Linked DNA regions of Homo sapiens. The protein of the gene in region 2 purifies or fractionates together with the protein of the main gene of each other region. This does not show direct contact. Each region holds a gene or a part of one and is shown on either strand. Other genes may lie near its edges.

Region 1 (7,026 bases), on a different chromosome or scaffold from region 2:
GTAGGAATGGTGAAAGGACGTTGGCCCCTGATGGCTGTGTGTGTGTGTGTGTGTAAATCTGTATGCACACATGGCAGTACACAGTGTAGTGGGTAAGAGTATGGGCTCTGGGTTGGAATCCTGGCTTTGTCACTTAACAGGCTGTGTGACCTTTGACAAATTACTTAACCTCTCTGTGCCTGATTCCTCATTAGTCAAATGAGGATAAAAATAACAGCTACTTGGTTAGATTGTTCTCAGGATTAAAAGTATATGAGAAATACTTAGAACTAGGCACATAGCAAATGCTCAGTCTGCTGCGGCAGCTGTCGATGATATTATTGTGTGTGCACACAGAGAGAAAACAGGAAAAGGCTGATGGTGGACTGTTCCAGAGTTGGCCTTACAGAGAGAGCTGGGAGGGCACACCACTGCTAATTGCATTGATAAGAACTGGGACTTAGAAAACCTGCGACCCAGTAAGTGCCCACCCAGCTCCTCGATGGTGAGAAAGGAACAGTTAGGAGAAGAGGATGCTCCCTTCTCTGCCCTGGATGTAGAGAGAAGGTTGGCTCCAACTCACAGCATTAGGCCTGAACTCCTCCTTGTGGAAGAAGCCCCCAGTCATCATCTTCTTGCTGAAGGTCATCACGTCTGCTGGGTCATCCAGGCCCCAGTGCTCATGGGCCCAGAACTTGCCCGTGCAGCCTCCTCCGGTCTGGACCTCGTCCACCAAGAAGGCGCAGCCATGCTGGCCGGAGAAGAGAGAGGAGGGAGAAATAAACACCCGTGGGAGGCCAGAAATTCATGCCCTCCATAGCCAGCTAACTGCCAAACCCTGGGTCCACACACATCGTGCTTGTTTTCTGAAGAGCAAACCAGCCCCATGTTCTTGAGCTGTGCACAAAAAAAACTAATCAAAACACTTAAGCTGAGCAGTTCCAACCAGAGCTGAATCTGAGTGTTTCCTAAAACTGCTAAGCTGGACCAAAAAAACCCAGAACATTAAATACTCCCTGCACCAACACAGAGCGGTATGTCATCTGGCTTCAGTCTCGGGTCTCGACCTCGTCAGAGGGAGCTGTGTCCAACAGTGAGGCCTCGAATGTGCTTCTCAAACTTCAGCTGCCATGTTCTGCTTGTCACCAAGGCTATTTCTAACTCAGCATCTGTGTTAAGTCAACTCACGTCTTATAACTTTTATCTGTGAACTTATCGGTTTGATTGCCAGTTATATATGCACAAGACATTAAAACAAACACACAATATAAAGAAAGCAAATCAGTGTGTCAAAGAGATACCTGCACTCCCATGTTTATTGCAGCACTGTTCACAATAGCCGAGATACAGAATCAATCTGTCCATCGATGGATGAATGGATAAAGTAAATATGGTACATATACACACTCGGCAAGGCGCGGTGGCTCTCACCTGTAATTCCAGCACTTTGGGAGGCTGAGGCGGGCAAATCACCCAAGGCCAGGAGTCTGAGCCAATCAGCCTGGCCAACATGGCGAAACCCCGTCTCTACTGAAAATACAAAAATTAGCTGGGCATGGTGTCGTGCACCTGTAATCTCAGCTACTTGGGAGACTGAGGCAGGAGAATCACTTGGACCCAGGAGGCAGAGGTTACAGTGAGCCAAGATCGTGCCACTGCACTCCAGCCTGGGCAACAGAGTGAGACTGTCTCAAAAAAAAAGAAAAAGAAAATATGGTACATATACACAAAGAAATACTATTCAGCCATAAAAAGAATGAAATTATGTCATTAGCAATGACGTGGATGGAACTACAGGACATTATGTTAAGTGACATAAGCCACACATACACAAATATTGCATGTTCTCACTCAGGTGGGAACTAAAAACACTTCCCTTATGAAGAAATAGAGTCGAATGACGCCTATCAGAGGCTGGCAAGGCTAATGGGGAGGTGGAGATAAATAGGGGTTGGTTAATGGATACAAAAGTACAGTTAGATAGAAGAATAAGATCTAGTGTCCAGTAGCACAATAGGGTGATTTTAGTTAATAATTTATTGCATAGTTCAAAATAGGAGTGGATTTGGAATATTCCCAATACAAAGAGATGATAAATATTTTAGGTGATGGATATCCAATTACCCAGATTTGATCATTACGCACTGCAACTATTATGTATCCAAAAAGGTTTTTTAAAAAGATTTTAAGGCCAAGTGTGGTGGCTCAGGCCTGTAATCCCAGCACTTTGGGAGGCTGAGGTGTGCAGATCACCTGAGGTCAGGAGTTCAAGACCAGCCTGGCCAACATGGCGAAATCTCGTCTCTGTTAGAAATACAAAAATTAGTTGGGTATGGTGACGTGTGCCTGTAGTCCCAGCTACTCGGGAGGCTGAGGTAGGAGAATCACTTGAACCTGGGAGGTAGGGGTTGCAGTGAGCTGAGATTGCACCACTGCACTCCAGCCTGGGTAACAGAGTGAGACTCTGTCTCAAAAAAAAAAATATATATATATGTGTGTGTGTGTGTGTGTGTGTGTGTGTGTGTGTGTGTGTGTATAGTTTTAGGGAAGAATCCCCATTCTTTCACCAACCCCAACTTCTCCACCCCTGATGCTGACAGACAGCCTCTGCAAGTCTGGAGATTGACAGAAGCTCCAAGGCAGAGGTGCTGCTGGCCCGTTACTCGGGGAACTCAACCCAGAAAACCCAATGGCTCCATCCAACCTCGGCCCTGTCCACTGACCTTCCTGGCGATGTCTCTCAGCTTCCGAAAGAAGTCATCGGATGCGTGGTTGTCTCCACCCTCGGACTGGATGGGCTCCACGATGATCCCGGCCACCGTCTTCTTCTTTTTCCGATATTTCACAATCAGATCCTCCACCTGGATCCCAAAGGGGAAAGTGACCACCGATGGCAGAGGCTTGTGACCAGTATCCGTGGGTGGGAATCTGGGGTTCGATGAGCCCCATGCAATTTTATTGGAAATGTGTTTGTGTGCATTTCCTAAGACCAGTGAAGCCTCTGTTAGAAGCTATGTGTGTGGATGGGAATGTATCCTACTTGAAATCGGTGCTAGCACCTGGGTGGATACAAACTAATAAATTGGGGCAAGTAATTTAGCTTCAGAAGCCTCACTTTCCTGATGTGTTGTATGGGCACACTGACAGAATCCACCTTCCAGGGTCGTGGAGAGGACTGAATGAGAAAATATAGCACTATGAGTTGATTGCTGGGCCAGATGTTTTAGCTGTGGTTCTGCCTCTGTTTTACATGGAACATGCACCTGTCACTTAACCTTGTTATGTGGGAAATAGCTACATCACGGGTATATTGAGAGAAATAAAGGTGAGAGCATTCACACACACACACACACACACACACACACACACACACACACACACACACACAGAGACAGAGAGAAAATACAGCAGAGTCTGGCACACATAAAGTGGTGGCTGCTACTATTACGATTAGCACGACTATATTATTATTGATTATTATTGTTCCTATTCTTACAGTATTATTGCTATGATTGGTGTGAGAATCCTTTTGGGGCAGAATCGGAGATATATCCTCGGTTAAAAAACTGTTCTAAGGGCCAGGTGTGGTGGCTCACACCTGCAATCCCAGCACTTTGGGTGGCTGAGGCAGGAGGATACCTTGAGGCCAGGAGTTTGAGACCAGCCTGTGCAACATAGCGCGGTTCATGTCTGCAAAACATTTAGAAATTAGCTGGGCATGGTGGCTGCGTGCCTGTAGTCTCAGCTACTTGAGAGGCTGAGGTGGGAGGACCCCTTGAACCAGGACTGTGAGATCGCAGTGAGCTATGACCACACCACTGCACTCCAGCCTGTGCAACACAGCAAGATCCTGTCTTTGTTAAAAAGAAAGAGGCTGGGCATGGTGGCTCACACCTGTAATCCTAGCACTTTGGGAGGCTAAGGCGAGCAGATCACCTGAGGTCAGGAGTTCCAGACCAGCCTGGCTACCATGGTGAAACCCCATCTCTACTAAAAATACAAAAATTAGTTGGGCATGGTGGCTCACGCCTGTACTCCCAGCTACTCCAGTGGCTGAGGCACGAGAATCGCTTGAACCCAGGAGGTAGAAGTTGCAATGAGCCGAGATATCGTGCCACTGCACCCCAGCCTGGGCAAGAGAGTGAAACTCTGTCTCAAAAAAAAAAAAAAAAGAAAGAAAAACCCTAAACCGTACACCTAGATAGACTAACAAGTGAAAGCTTTCTTTATTATGTACAATTAAGAAAAAGCCTCTGTTTGGGTGATATGATTTTGACCTTGGTCTCCACCAGTCACCCCAAGGAAGCTCTGAGATACTTTTCTTGGTTTTCTTTTTTTTTTTTTTGAGATGGAGTTTTACTCTTGTTGCCCAGGCTGGAGTGCAATAGCGCAATCTCAGCTCACCGCAACCACCACCTCCCGGGTTCAAGTGATTCTCCTGCTTCGGCCTCTGGAGTAGCTGGGATTACAGGCATGCACCACCATGCCCGGCTAATTTTGTATTTTTAGTAGAGATGGGGTTTCTCCATGTTAGTCAGGCTGCTCTTGAACTCCTGACCTCAGGTGATCTGCCCGCCTCAACCTCCCAAAGTGTCGCAGTTACAGGCATGAGCCACCGCGCCCGGTTTTTCTTTGTTTTTAGAGCATTGTGCTGTAAGTGTAAAATACACACAGTGTTTCAAAAACTGAATACGAAGAAAAGGACTATCTTAGTTTGTTTAGACCTAAATAAATGAATTTTTAAAATAAAGGAATTTTTAAAAAGGAATATAAAAATCACATTGTTTAAAAATACTAATTACACATTTACGTGATAATATTTTGAATATATTCGGTTCAATAAAATGCTCTGAAAATGAATTTCACCTATTTCTTTGTAATTTTAAAAAACGTGACTCCTGGCCACGCACGGTGGCTCACACCTGTAATCCCAGCAATTTGGGAAGCCGAAGTGGGCAGACCACTTGGGCCCAGGAGTTTGAGACCAACCTGGGCAACACGGCAAAACCTGTTTCTGCAAAAAATACAAAAATTAGCCAGGTGTGGTGGTGTCATGTGCCTTAGTTCCAACTACTCAAGAAGCTGAGGTGGGAGGATCACCTGAGCCCAGAGAGGTCGAGACTGCAGTGAGCTGTGATTGCACCACTGCACTCCAGCCTGGGTGACAGAGTGAGACCCTGTCTCAAACAAAACAAAAGAAAAGAAGGCCGGCGCGGTGGCTCACACCTGTAATCCCAGCACTTTGGGAGGCCGAGGCGGGCGGATCACAAGGTCAGGAGATCGAGACCATCCTGGCTAACACGGTGAAACCCTGTCTCTATTAAAAATACAAAAAATTAGCCGGGTGTGGTGTCAAGCGCCTGTAGTCCCAGCTACTCAGGAAGCTGAGGCAGGAAAATGGCATGAACCCAGGAGGCGGAGCTTGCAGTGAGCTGAGATCGCGCCACTGCACTCCAGCCTGGGCAACAGAGCTAGACTCCATCTCAAAAACAAAGCAAAACAAAACAAAGCAAATGTGACTCCTTGGCAGTTTCCAGGCAGGGTGTAAAAATGAAAGAAAAGGTGACTACTGGAAAAGCTATAATTACATATGTGGCTTGCATTATATTTCTATTGGACAGTGCTGTACTTGATGCCATTATCTTGTCTTTTCTATTTACCACTGAATACCCAGCACCTAGCACCTTGCTTGACATCTAGTAGGTGCTCAATAAATATGAACTGATTGAAAATGATGATGTGCCTAAGAAAAAAACCAGCAGCCTTATTTGAGTTCAAATCTATACCCAAACAGTGATATTTTTTTCCAGCTGCAGATTACTTCCAATGTCTTCCCTGGAACCCCCATATACTGAGTGGATCTAAAGAGGGCTGTGTTAGATGACGTGGAAACGGGGGGTAGGGGGGTGCTGCCTGTCCTCAGCCTCTCCCATAGCATCCCCCGACCCACAGCAACTCAAAGCCCCAAGACTCAGGAGAAGACAAAACCAGTGGTTTAGAGGATCTTGTGGAACCATTTTTTCCTGTGGGATATCCCATATTCTTTCTTTCTCTCTCTCTCTTTTTTTTTTTTTTTTTTTTTTGGACAGAGTCTCACTCCGTTACCCAGGCTGGAGTGCAGTGGTGCAATCTTGGCTCATTGCAACCTCTGCCTCCCGGGTCCAAGGGATTCTTGTGCCTCAGCCTCCCTAGTAGCTGGGATTACAGGCATGTGCCACCACACCCAGCTAATTTTTAGTAGAGATGGGGTTTCACCATGTTGGCCAGGCTGGTCTCGAACTCCTGGCCTCAGGTGATCCTCCCGTCTCAGCCTCCCAAAGTGCTGGGATTACAGGCGGAGCCACCGTGCCCAGCCCCATATTCTTTCAACTGATCTGTTTTCTCTTATTTTAGAGTCATTGACTCTTGTCTTCCAAGAAACTTAAGTGATACAGAAATTGGTATCAGAGTTGGGTGATGGATGCTGTGACAGAAACAGTGTGTCTCACGAACTCTCCCAACATAGAACATTTGGGACGCAAGGCCTCTGTGTCCCTGCTTCCCTCTGGGGGAGCACTGCACAGATCCCCAGATAAACCCTTCATCTGTTTCTCTTCTCCCCAAGTCTTGGGGCGGCAAGAGCAACAGGACTGGTGGTTGGGGAGGATCCGCAGGGTATGAGCATTACCTCTTCCAGACAGCGGGCCTCCTCCTGTTGGTTCTCTTTCACAAACTCTTCCAGAGGGTATTTCAGCCGTGGGAACGGTGCGATGGGCCAGTCAAAGGAAGGGATGTCGATCTTGTGAATGGCTTTAGAGTGCGTGGTCGCTAAGCAACCTGAGTTCAGCAAAACAGAAAAGCAGACGCTTGGCTTGGGGAAGCAGGCAGTACCGTCTTTGTAAAGGAGATGATAGACATTTCAGCGCAAGGCTGTCAGTGGGCAGGGAGGCCTGTTGCCTGTGAAACCCCAGTTCTTTTTATCGTTTAATTTTTAATTTTTCTGGGTGCATAGGAGGTGTATATACTTGGGGAGTACATGAGATGTTTTGATACTGAACCCCAGTTCTC
Region 2 (7,233 bases):
TCTGCTGCTCACCATGGGGGTCTGTCAGCCCTCCTGAAGCTTCAGGTCCAGCTTGGGCTGCTCTACTCTAGGAAGCCTCTCCCACCACAGGGCCCACCATGGTGGTCCAGACCCTTCAGCACTGTCTCCTGGGTGTCCGAGACAACTTCCTGAGGGTTAAAATGATGTCTATATTTCTTTGACCTCAGCCAGTGATGAGCAAAAAAGGCATGCGGTAAAACCTGGGGAGCAAAAACCCCCTCACTTCCCCTCTCTGTGATCCCCTTAAGACCTTCTGTTTACTTTAAGAGCAAAATGTTTGTCCCATGACCAGGCCCCAGACTCATTAATTCTATGAATGAATTTTTCTTTATGTTTACTGAACATGAGAGCCACACGGTGCCTTTAAGAAGGTTGCTGGCCTATGAGCAAGTCACAGAGGGGATCTAGGTGGGACTTGGCTGACCATTCTCTGGATGGGAGGAGGGGTGGCACGGCCTGGGCCTGGGATGTCAGAGCAGCTCTGGCTTGGGCCTACAGTGCTGCCAAGTGATTCCATTCAGCTCACTTGGTACATCATCCCTCCCAGGCCCTGGTGACAGTGAGTGAAGCCATCAAAAACACGACAACAGGAAAATATAGTGCTTATGGGAGCCCCAGGAGAGACCCTTCCCAAATGAAATGAAGTAAGAGAGGGTATTGAGAGACTGAGGGGATCACTGGCCTGGGAAAAAGAGAGGGAGGAGGGAAGACAGATTCTGGGTCAAACGACCGGCTTTAGCAAAGGCCTGGGCAGACGACCATCGGTGTGGGCAGCCAATAGGTACTGGCTGGTAGGATTCCCAGCAGAAGGATGTTGGGCTGCCAAGCCTGACCTACAAGGCCCAGGGCTCTGAATGACCCCAGATCTGCAGCTGCCTTCCAGCTAGCTAATGTGCCAGCATCAGCTTCTCTGTCAGCTCACAGCAGTGATGGGCTCTGTGGTTTCGATTTTTCAAATACAGGGGAAAAGTAATTTCAGGCCAGGTGCAGTGGCTCATACCTGTAATCGCAGCACTTTGGGAGGCTGCGATAGGAGGACTGCTTGAGCCCAGAAGTTTCAAACCAGTCTGGGCAATACAGTAAGACTCTGTCTCCATATAAGAAAATGAAAATTTTTTAAACTGAAAAAAAAAAGTGTTTTTAAAGGCTGGGCACAGTGGCTCACGCCTGTAATCCCAGCACTTTGGGAGGCTGAGGCGGGTGGATCACCTGAGGTCAGGAGTTCAAGACCAGCCTAACCAATATGGTGAAACCTTGTCTCTACTAAAACTACAAAAATTAGCCAGGCATGGTGGCGGGTGCCTGTAGTCCCAGCTACTTGGGAGGCTGAAACAGGAGAATTGCTTGAAGCCAGGAGGCGGAGGTTGCAGTGAACTGAGATCGTGCCACTGCACTCCAGCCTGGGCGACAGAGTTAGACTCCACCTCAAAAAAAAAAGTTTTTAAAAAGTAATTTCAGAAACTAAATATGAATGTCCTATACACTTCTCCACCATTAAACAGTAATTGCAAAAGACAGACAATCTCTGGGGCTCCAAAAGACTGTCACTCTATCAGGCCATGTTGGCCTGGAGGGAAGCTCTGCAGATAGGAAGCAAATGGATTCAGGGGACCACAGCGTCGTGATCTCCTTCTGAGGGGTTTGACAACCTCTAGCTCTCCTCTGGAGCATGGACTGTGAGAGGGAAGGGCAATGAATTAAAGCCAGTCAGGAGCAGCAATAAGGAGGAGAAACAACTGAAAGCCGTGGAGGTGTTTCCCTTGGAGGAAATGTGAAGGCACGAAGCTGTCCTCTTGAACAGAGGAAGAGAGATTCCTTGCTCTGTATCGTTCCCACCACAATGCTCTAGCCCTGCAGTTAGCACACCATTTTGAAACCACCTGCTTATAAATTCACTCCCCTCCCCAAAACCTCAGCTCCTTGGGCGTGTGAGTCACTTCTGAGTGGCCAACAACGATCCCACAGCCAGGACACAGCAAATACTGAACTGAGAGCGGAAATTACAGGAAGGCCTATTGTGGCTCAAGAAAGGGAAGTGCTTTCTAACAATCCCAGCTGCCTCCAACAGGCTAGAATGTTTGGGCAGAAGCATCGCCCCAGGGAAGGGTCTGCTAGCAATGGAATGCACTCATGCCAACAGAGGGAGGCAGGACAAAACAGTCTCTGAGATTTCTTCCAATTCTAAGACCCAGCCTCCTGGAGCAGCAAAGGGAGCCATGGGATCCGCCACTGCACTCCGGCCTGGGCGACAGGGGAGACTCCATCTCTTAAAAAAAAAAAAAGAAAGGGGGGCTGAGGGGGAACCACAGGGGAGCAATGCAATGGCAGCACCTGCACTGTGCCAGGGACACACATCCAAACGCTACCTCGTAACCCTCGCAATCCCACGAGGAGGTAGGCACTAGTACTCTTCCCATTTCACAGTGGAGGAATCTCAGGCTCAGGGAGGTTCAATAGCTTGCCAAAGACATATAACTTGTAAGACATGGAGCTGAAATGTGAACCAGGACCACGAGGCTGCCCTCCTGGCCGTGCAGAAGGCAGCTCCAACCCTTTGCAGCCGAAGACTCTCCAAAGGAAATAATATTAACTGACTTCATGGCTTGCTGACGCCAAAACGTGTCCAAAGTATTTTTACATCTATAAACCCAAAAGCGCTAAGCCAGCAGATCCAGTTCTAGGGAAAAACAGCTGGTCTGGGGCCATCTGTTCTGCGGGAGTCTAAGGGCTGCCCTCTCCTAGACTCCAACCAAAGAACATGAGATGCTACGGGAGGGATCTGGGAAGGCTCTCCTTAAGGAGGTAAGTTTTATGGAGAGCAGAGTATAAGATCAAACCTTTGCATTAGAAAGATCACTGTGGTAGCAGTTTAAGAGGCTGGGCTGCAGGCAGTGAGACAGGAGGCGTGAAGGCGATGCTGGACTAATGCAAGTGAGGGACACGCTGGCCTCAGGCTGATCATACTTCAAGGCCCTTCTGCCAGAATTCCCAGAGAGACCAAACTTTCCACTCTCTGGACCCCGATCTACTCACACTGTCATGGATGCGGGCCTGCTGTCAATCCTAATTTTGTGGAGAATCCTACATGTCTTTCTTTAATGTAAGGAGAGAAACAATGCTGATCGTAAATGCCAATTACTGAACTCACTCCATGCCAGGCCCTTTACACAATCTCCAGATGGCCCCAACAGCCCTATGAGGAAGGTTACTATCCTTATCCCGGTTTTGCAGAGGAGGAAACTGAAGTTCAGAGAAGGTAGCTTACCAAAGGTAATCCAGCTCCTAAAGGAAGGAGTCAGGATTTCAGTCGAGTTCTACCCGACGGCAGAGACTGCACTGTTAACCACTGCCGAGAAGAGTGGAGAGGGACGGCTAAGGGTTCTGAGTCCCGGGCTTCTGCGAGGATCGGTGACCCCGCGAGCCTCCCCCTCCACGCCTTCGGGAAAATAATAAGTGATAGGCTAGATGTGGGAAGCCCAATCCCAAACAAAGGAATCAGGAGGGATCCAGCTTTCGGCAGCCTTCAGCTATGAGAAGTGATTAAAGGGCATGGACCTGAGCACCCCGGACAGGAAAGACAGAAAAAGAGGTCCCAAGCGAGCAGCTGACTCGGGCAGAGGCGGGGCTCGCCAGGGAGGAACACTCTGGGGCGGGACTTACGAGGGGCGGGGCTCTCTGAGCCTCTCTAAGTCTAGGACCTGCCAGACCCTATGAGGGGGCGGCCCGAGGGAGGGCGGGGCCGCATGAGGGGCGGGGCTACAGCTGCGCTCGCAACCCACAGGTTCATGAGGTCACCTCCCCGCGCCTGGACCCAACCCTCATTCCATACTCTGGCTCCAGCAGGGCTGATCCGGGATCTCGATGGTGTAGTCCAGCTCTGCCGAGGCCATGGTGAAGGCGCCGGCCCAGAGCACGGGTCTCCAGCCGGAACTCCCGCTTGCGCACCCGTGCCTCACCCGGGCGCCTCCTGGGCGCCGCCCAATCACCACACACCTCCCCCAACACGGCCCAATCCCTGCGCCGCGCTCTGTGACCTCCCGCCTTAGCAACCACCGAGTCTCTTCCAGAGCCTCTCGCCTCACCCCACTAGCTCGGCCCTAGCAACCATGCCCCGCCCCTATTACTGACCCGCAGCCATTGGCTAATTCGCTTGATCTGGATCAGGTATTGGTCAGCCGGGGCGCCGGTCAGGAAGAGTCCCCACCCTCTCATGTAGGTGAGAGGCGGCTGAAGAGTTGCTGTATTCTGGGAATGGGCAGGGTCACTCGTCCGAACAGAGTCCTATCCTACGCGGCGGAAGAGTGTGCCCTTTGACTTGCATCGTCTACCTACCTCTGCCATCCTCTACCAGCCGCAACTGCGAGGGCTGGAGGTATAAAACCGTACAAAACGGCCTAGGGGGCGCGTGCCGACCCAACCTCCACCCAGTGGGGTTGAGGCATATTCTGGATGGATGGATGGATGGATGGATGGATGGGTGGATGGGAAGCAGTCTTCAGTTGATGACTTTAGAGAATGCCCTGTTGATAGGGCCCACCGAGGAGCTGGGAGTGCAACTTTCTTGCATTTATCTATATTTACATACTATGTGCCAGCATATTTACATACTATGTGCCAGAGACTGGGTGGGCTAAATAAGGTTCCTTAGGCCCTAGTGAGAATCAAGCTTTTGGCCCTCCCTCTCCCATGTCTTAACGGGAGAGGGAGAGAAACCATGCATGAAGCAACTCTGATTCTGCGTGTGAGATAAATACTACAGAAGAGTAAGGATTTGAGGAGCTCAGAATCAGAGAAGGGGCATTTATGGCAGTGGGGTTGGCTCTTGAGCTGGGCCTTGAAAGACTTTTAGAGATAGGGAGGGGGAAAGACTCTTTGCATGCCAGGCGCGGTGGCTCAAACTCGTAATCCCAGCACTTTGGAAGGCCAAGACGGGAGAATGGCTTGAAGGAGTTCAAGACCAGCCTGGGCAACATAGTGAGACCTTCATCTCTACAAAATTAAAATTTTAAAAATTAGCCAGGCATGGTAGCGCATGCCTGAAGTCCCAGCTACTTGGAAAGCTGAGGTGGGAGGATCACTTGAGTCAGGAGGTCAAAGCTGCAGTAAGCCATGATTGTGCCACTGCACTCCAGCCTGGGTGACAGAGTGAGACCCTGTCTCAAAAAACAAAACAAAGAGCCCAGTGTGGTGTCTCACCCCTGTAATCCCAGCACTTTGGGAGGCTGAGGCGGGCGTATCACTTCAGGTCAGGAGTTCGAGACCAGCCTGGCCAACATGGCGAAACCCCATCTCTACTAAAAATACAAAAATTAGCCGGGCATGGTGGTGCACACCTGTAATCCCAGCTACTTGGGAGGCTGAGGCAGGAGAATGGCTTGAACCTGGGAGGTAGAGGTGGCAGTGAGCCGAGATTGCTCCACTGCACTCCAGCCTGGGTGACAGAGCGCGACTCTGTCTCAAAAAAAAAGAAACATTAGTGCAGGAACTGGATTGAGGATTGGGAGAAGGAGGGAGACCAGTTAGGAGGTTGTTTCAGTAGTGGGGAAGGATTATGGTGGCACAAAGCATGGAGTGGCAGCTGAAATGGAAAGGGCAGGATGAATTCCTTAGACACTTATAGCTAGAAAAAAATGGACTTGGTTACTAATTGGGTGTGGGGGAAGTAAGGGAAATGAAGGATGACTTCTAGATTCCTGGTTTGGGCAAACAGGAAGGAGAGGAAGCAGGGGTTTTTAGGAGAGGGTCAGTTCTGGGCACGGTGAGCTTGGGGTGCCAATGGAACATCCAAGTGGAGGTATCCAGAAGGCCATTGGATATGCCTAACTGGAGTTCGCCAGATAAGTCTAACTGGAAGTTGCAGTGTGGGAGTCTATGGGGCCTTATAGATGCCAGCCACACCAATAGATTTGTTGAGCTTGCCCAGGGAGTAAGTGTAGAGTCAGAAGAGACCTAGGACAGAGCCCTGAGAAACACCCAAGTTTGAGGGTCTGGCAAAGGAGGACGAACCTGCAAAGGTAATCAAGATGAAGTGTCCAAAATGGTAAGAAGATCAGTAGTAGTATGTGGTGTTTCAGAAGCCAAGGAAGGAAAGTGTTGAAGGCTTATGACTAATCAAGTAAAATAAGGCCTGAAAGAATCCACTGGATTTAGAAACAAGGAAGTTGTTGGTGACCTTTACAAGTGCAGTTTCAGTGGAGTGATGGGAGCAGAGGTCAAATTACAGTGGTTTGAGAAGCAGATGGGATTGAGGAAGTGAAGATTCATGTAAGATACATTTTCAGAAAGCTTGGCTATTTAGGAGAAGAAAAAAGAAGGCAATATCCAGCAGGAAACACAGGTTTTTATTCGGATGGAAGAAATGTTGATGTGGATCCAGCAAAGGGGAAAAAGATAAAACTATAAGGGAAAGAAGATAACTGAGAATGGTGCCCTTGAAAAAAAGACTTCACCAAAGTGTTGGTGAAGAAATTCACTTAGAAGGGTGGAGGAACATTTGTTTTGTGGCAGAAGGGAAGCATTACGTTGAGGTTAATTGGTGGGTTTGGTGACAGGAAGCTGAGGGAATTCTTCGATGGTTTCCATTTTCTCTGTCAAATAAGAACATTATATCAGCCAGTGAGAGTGGGATTGGAGATGGTGTGCGAGATTGAAAAGAGCAGAGAAAGATTAAAATAGCAGCACTGGAGAGTGGCAGTGAGATGACTAAGGTAGCAAACAGATTTCTGGGCAGTTATCATGGCCCTGTCGAGGTTAGTGACCATTAATTTTCGGAAGCAGCAGTCTGCAAGGTTGTGTAATATGCATTTTTCCCTCAACAACATTCAGCCACCTAGTGGTGGGTACACAGAGGTTAGTTTAATTGATCTAGGTTTGGGTTTTACCAGGCGGATACAATGGAAGGACAAAGGACAAGGAAGTTGAAGATTGTGGCAAAACAGTGATTGAAATGAAGGGCCTTAGTATCTAAACTGGATAGGAGAGTGAAAAAAAATGTATGGACTAGAGGTCCCAGTGAAGTCAGAGAATCCACATCTGAGATCATTGAATGAGGGAGTTGTGATCAGAAAGTGGAAGAATGAAGTTTGAGTAGTTTCCGGTGATGACAAGGTCCACTGTGTGGCCGTGGGAGTCAGTGACCAAAGTGGAGTACAGGAGACAGTCAGGATGCTGATGTGGCCACTGAACTCCCCCTGGATGATAGAAAGACTTGAG

Evidence for each region. Proteins that work in one complex are often made in the same cells at the same time.
Region 1: the proteins of ARMH1 (region 2) and ABAT purify together in Homo sapiens (affinity purification with mass spectrometry; 2 studies listed by BioGRID and IntAct, with this or other methods). This does not show direct contact.

The regions. Positions count from the first base shown.
Region 1 is NC_000016.10:8,768,594-8,775,619, reverse strand, and holds part of ABAT (4-aminobutyrate aminotransferase, mitochondrial isoform 1 precursor), read right to left. Parts: intron 6,796-7,026; coding exon 6,647-6,795; intron 2,841-6,646; coding exon 2,703-2,840; intron 731-2,702; coding exon 563-730; intron 1-562. UniProt on the Homo sapiens protein: Catalyzes the conversion of gamma-aminobutyrate and L-beta-aminoisobutyrate to succinate semialdehyde and methylmalonate semialdehyde, respectively. Can also convert delta-aminovalerate and beta-alanine.
Region 2 is NC_000001.11:44,670,481-44,677,713, forward strand, and holds the start of ARMH1 (armadillo-like helical domain containing protein 1), read left to right. Parts: upstream 1-4,233; 5' UTR 4,234-4,393; intron 4,394-7,233. Other genes in the region: TMEM53 (transmembrane protein 53), read right to left, coding at 3,851-3,911.